Regions from separate parts of the Homo sapiens genome. Here region 1 is linked to region 2. Evidence: fine-mapped expression QTL. A gene starts in region 2. The other region holds a variant in brackets. All regions are shown on one strand. Distances are between the middles of the regions.

Region 1 (2,909 bases), 46 kb before region 2:
ACACATTAACACAACACACCTTTCTAGAACACCTACTGTCAGGCCTCTGAGCCCAAGCCAAGCCATCGCATCCCCTATGACTTACACGTGTACATCCAGATGGCCTGAAGTAACTAAAGATCCACAAAAGAAGTAAAAATAGCCTTAACTGATGACATTCCACCATTGTGATTTGTTTCTGCCCCACCCGAACTGATCAATGTACTTTGTAATCTCCCCCACCCTTAAGAAGGTTCTTTGAAATTCTCCCCACTCTTGAGGATGTACTTTGTGAGATCCACCCCTGCCCGCAAAACATTGCTCTTAACTTCACCGCCTATCCCAAAACCCATAAGAACTAATGATAATCCACCACCCTTTGCCGACTCTCTTTTCGGACTCAGCCCGCCTGCACCCAGGTGAAATAAACAGCCATGTTGCTCACACAAAGCCTGTTTGGTGGTCTCTTCACATGGACGCGCATGAAATTTGGTGCCGTGACTCAGATCGGGAGACCTCCCTTGGGAGATCAATCCCCTATCCTCCTGCTCTTTGCTCCATGAGAAAGATCCACCTACGACCTCAGGTCCTCAGACCCACCAGCCCAAGAAACATCTCACCAATTTCAAATCCAATAAGCAGCCTCTTTTTACTCTCTTCTCCAACCTCCCTATCCCTCACCGTCTTTCTCCTTTCAATCTAGGCGCCACACTTCAATCTCTCCCTTCTCTTAATTTCAATTCCTTTCATTTTCTGGTAGAGACAAAGGAGACGTTTTATCTGTGGACCCAAAAAACCGGCGCCGGTCACGGACTGGGAAGGCAGCCTTCCCTTGGTGTTTAATCATTGCAAGGACGCCTCTGATCATTCACCCACGTTTCAGAGGTGTCAGACCACGCAGGGACACCTGCCTTGGTCCATAACCCTTAGCGGCAAGTCCCGCTTTTCTGAGGAAGGGGCAAGGACCCCAACCCCTTCTTTCCGTGTCTCTACCCCTTCTCTGATTTTCTGGGGCAGGGGCAAGAACCCCCCAACCCCTTCTCCTTCACCCTTAGCGGCAAGTCCCGCTTTTCTGGGGGAGAGGCAAGTACCCCAAACTCGTATCTCTGTGCCCCAATCCCTTATTTCCATGCCCCAACCCCTTTCCCGCTTTTCTGGAGGGTAAGAACCCCCAAACCCCTTCCCTCCATGTCTCTACGCTCTCTTTTCTCTGGGCTTGCCTCCTTCACTATGGGCAACCTTCCTACATTCCTCCTTCTTCTCCCTTAGCCTGTGTTCTCAAGAACTTAAAACCTCTTCAACTCATACCTGACCTAAAACCTAAATAAATGCCTTATTTTCTTCTGCAATGCCGCTTGACCCCAATACAAACTCGACAGTAGTTCCAAATAGCCAGAAAACGGCACTTTCAATTTTTCCATCCTGCAAGATCTAAATAATTCTTGTCGTAAAATGGGCAAACAGTCTGAGGTGCCTGATGTCCAGGCATTCTTTTACACATCAGTCCCTTCCTAGTCTCTGTGCCCAGTGCAACTCGTCCCAAATCTTCCTTCTTTCCCTCCCGCCTGT[C/T]CCCTCAGTCCCAACCCCAAGCGTTGCTGAGTCTTTCTAATCTTCCTTTTCTACAGACCCATCTGACCTCTCCCCTCCTCGCCAGGCCGAGCTAGGTTCCAATTCTTCCTCAGCCCCTAGACCCTAAAAGGTCAAAAGGCCGTCTTATTCTCAATATACATTTTATTACCCAATCTGCTCCCGACATTAAATAAAACTCCAAAAATTAGAATCTGGCCCTCAAACTCCACAACAGGACTTAATTAACCTCACCTTCAAGGTGTACAATAATAGAAAAAAGTTGCAATTCCTTGCCTCCACTGTGAGACAAACCCCAGCCACATCTCCAGCACACAAGAACTTCCAAATGCCTGAACCGCAGCGGCCAGGCGTTCCTCCAGAACCTCCTCCCCCAGGAGCTTGCTACACGTGCCAGAAATCTGACTACCAGGGCCAAGGAATGCCTGCAGCCCAGGATTCCTCCTAAGCCGTGTCCCATCTGTGCGGGACCCCACTGGAAATCGGACTGTTCAACTCACCTGGCAGCCACTCCCAGAGCCCCTAGAACTCTGGCCCAAGGCTCTCTGACTGACTCCTTGGCTTAGCGGCTGAAGATTGACGCTGCCCAATCGCCTTGGAAGCCCCCAGACCATCACGGACGCCAAGCTTTGGGTAACTCTCACAGTGGAGGGTAAGTCCACCCACTGTTTAATCGAAACGGGGACTACCCACTCCATGTTGCCTTCTTTTCAAGGGCCTGTTTCCCTTGCCTCCATAACTGTTGTGGGTATGGACGGCCAGGCTTCTAAACCTCTTAAAACTCCCCAACTCTGGTGCCAACTTAGACATTACTCTTTGAAGCACTCATTTTTAGTTATCCCCACCTGCCCAGTTCCCTTATTAGGCCGAGATATTTTAAGCAAATTATCTGCTTCCCTGACTATTCCTGGACTACAGCCGCATCTCATTGCCGCCCTTCTCCCCAACCCAAAGCCTCCTTTGCGTCTTCCTCTCATATCCCCCCACCTTAACCCACAAATATGGGACATTTCTACTCCTTCCCTGACAACTGATCACATGCCCATTACCATCCCATTAAAACCTAATCACCCTTACCCCGCTCAACGCCAATATCCCATCCCACAGCACGCTTTAAAAGGATTAAAGCCTGTTATCACTGGCCTGCTACAGCATAGGCTTCTAAAACCTATAAACTCTTCTTATAATCCCCCCATTTTACCTGTCCAGAAACCGGACAAGTCTTACAGATTAGTTCAGGATCTGCGCCTTATCAACCAAATTGTTTTGCCTATCCACCCTGTGGTGCCCAACCCATACACTCTTTCATCCTCAATACCTTCCTCCACAACTCACTATTCCAC
Region 2 (2,909 bases):
ATATGGCCCTTTACAAAAAATGAATTGGGGACCGGAGTTTTAGACCACTATGGGCTTTTAACAAACCCAAGTGTGTGATCACTGAATTTCAGAATCAGAAAAAGCCTTTGAAGAACTTGGGAGTTGAGCGTCATCACTAGGTAAATCAAACCTGTGGCTGAGAAGGGCAAAATGATACGTCTAAGGTCACACGCATTTGACCTGGACTTCTGGAGCACACCATTGTTACCACCAAGCGAAAACTATGAGGGGTGAGGGTAGAAGCTGAGGATAGTGAGACCATTGGGGTCCAGTCTCAAGTTGAAATGGCCAGTGTTCAGTGGCCAATTTCTGAAAAGGGGCCAGGAGAGCCTCACCTCAAGGCTGATCGTAACTGAAACTTATCTGTGCCTGTAGCAGCAAAATCTGAAAGTGGAAAGCAAGTTTCCAAGGGCCCAAAGAGGCTCTCAGCGGGCAGCCTGTAATAACCTAGGGCTCCTCCATCTCCCTAGTCCATTGCAGGGGCTGGAGATGGGTGTGGTGGAGGTGGCTACTATTTACTGAGGCCTAGTGTGTTGTGTCCAACATACTTTCAAGAACTTACACAATCTCATTTGATCCTCACAGACACCATATGGAACAGGTAACATCCCCATTTAAAGCTGTAGATGTTGAGGCTCAGAGAGGTTAATGACTCGCTGAAGGTCACACAGATGTCAAGAGGTGAAGATGAGACTCCACTAGGTCGGTTTGACCTGGAAACCTGTTTTTAATATCATGACTCACGGCACAGCCCATTGGTTACAGGATTGGGGCCGACACATAGCTGATAAGGGGGCCTGATCTTGGGTTGAAATCCTGGTCTATCAGTCCCGAGCACTAGCGGTGAGTCCAGATTACATTTTCCAACCTAGCACAAGTTTCCTGCTCTTAAGAGTTCTTCAGCCCCGTCTCATCTTTCCAAGCACCAGAGCTCTTCAAGAGCTGGTTAGGGCCTCCCTCTCATTCCTCCAGTGCACCCAGAATAGGGTTCAGCGCCGTGAGGACGTAGGCGGTCCTTAGCCACCCCTTGGCGCCTACCCTGGGTGGTCGATAGCCCCAACTGGGAACAGCACGGGCTCCGCGTCGGCTGCCAGCAGCCCGCCGGCCGCCACTTACCTGCCGCGGGGCGGTGAGGGTCCCATCCACGTCGAAGAGGCAGAGCGCTGGGCCAGGCGCTGCCATGTCCCCAGTTTCTAGCCGCACCTTACAAGACACGTTGGCACGAGGAACTCGGCCCGGAACTTCCGGGTTCGGCCGCTGAGTCGCAGGGCACGTCGGGAAGAGGAGGGGACTCCGTTCCCATAACGCCTGGGAGTAGCGGCAGCCACGATTCCTGGACCGCAACTCCCAGGGTGCAACGCAGATCACGCCCGCCTTGTACATTCGAGCATGCGCTCTTAGGGGTTCCGGGGGCCGGTGGGATTTACTTCCGGCAGCAGGTGGTGGGGCCATGGTAAGGAGGCGGGTGGCGAGCCTTGAGGGGGTGATGCTCTTTGGGGTCGGGGTCAGGGCTGGGGCGGGCAGGCCCGACGCTCGGGTTTCGGACTCCGAGGATCCGTGGGAGGAAGCTCTGGCGTGTGTTACAGTTCGCTTTTCCCGGGCTTTCTCTTGCCCTCCTTGGGTCACATGCGCACAGTAGTAGTAGCTAAAACTCGCCGAGCTCTCACAGTGCATTAGGTACTAAGTTGAGGACTCTGAAACCATCCTCTGGTTCACTGTGTTCTGAGTCCCCATTTTGAAAGGCGAAGAAACCGAATCTCAGGGGTGTGGAGTAATTTGCTCACAAATTACTGTTGGAGCCAGAATTGGAATAAGAGCTTTTACTGCTTCACTACCCACCTAGTAATACCCTTGTGCTACGTGTTGGGGCCTCCCTGCCTCGCTCCTTCTCCTTCTCCGCTGTTTCCCCTTCCCCAGACTAGGCTAAGAGAAAGCAGCAGTTCCCTCCAGCACCCAAGATAGCATATGAATCAAACAGAGAATTAGAAAGTTTATTGGAATAAATATCTCACAGATTTGTTGCTCGAGTTCCCCACTAAGACACTGATTATTTAGTTTCCTGCTTGGGGAAATGTTCACACCCCCTTGTGGATACATTGTCCAGCCCAGAGTTTGTCCTCCCTGGATATGTTTTGAATTAATGACGGCCGCACCTCCTTTCCTGTATTTATTTGGAATTGCCTGGTGGAAGGAGGACTCTGCTGCACTCACTGACTGTGTGATCTTTGGTAAATATCTTACCCTCTCTGGGCTTAGTTTCCCTAGTGGTAAAGTGGAAATAGTGATAACTATCTTAGATAGCTGTTGTGATGCCCACATGAGATAGCATCTGGCTTTACCCTTCCCTCGTCTGGCAATAACGGTTACCTTGCAGGATTGGCAGAAGCCTTAGAGTATGGTGCTTTGCAGATGTTCACCGTGTGATTAATGTGGTTGAGTTCCATGAGAGAAATGGTCTACTGTCTCCCTTTCAGGCTGCCCTTCTCCGAGCTGTGCGTAGGTTTCGGGGAAAAGCTGTGTGGGAAAGGCCTCTCCATGGGCTGTGGTGCTGCAGTGGGCAGGAGGATCCTAAGAGGTGGGTGGGCAGCAGTTCACCCATCTCGAAGGAGAAACTACCAAACGCAGAGACTGAGAAATTCTGGATGTTTTACCGTTTTGATGCCATCAGAACCTTCGGGTTCCTGTCACGACTGAAGTTGGCACAGACTGCCCTGACAGTGGTAGCTTTGCCACCAGGCTATTACTTGTACTCCCAGGGCCTCCTCACTCTCAACACCGTGTGCCTCATGAGTGGGATATCGGGCTTTGCCCTGACCATGCTGTGCTGGATGAGCTATTTCTTACGGAGACTGGTTGGTATCCTGTATCTGAATGAGTCTGGCACCATG

What was found.
Region 1: its variant is fine-mapped to the expression of PMM2 in subcutaneous fat (GTEx, PIP 0.94).

Annotation. Positions count from the first base shown.
Region 1 is chr16:8,842,585-8,845,493 of GRCh38, reverse strand. The region is part of intron 7 of PMM2 (phosphomannomutase 2); the gene reads right to left. Among named protein-coding and RNA genes, the nearest start is that of CARHSP1, 25 kb to the left of the region's middle. The variant C/T (reference allele first, on the strand shown) is at 1,549.
Region 2 is chr16:8,796,177-8,799,085 of GRCh38, reverse strand. PMM2 (phosphomannomutase 2) reads right to left here and starts at 1,247. Exons shown (of 8, transcript NM_000303.3): 1 at 1,138-1,247. The coding sequence starts at 1,203. TMEM186 (transmembrane protein 186) reads left to right here and starts at 1,447. Exons shown (of 2, transcript NM_015421.4): 1 at 1,447-1,474; 2 at 2,496-2,909. The coding sequence starts at 1,472. RefSeq lists enhancers at 464-1,158, 1,471-1,520, 1,159-1,853.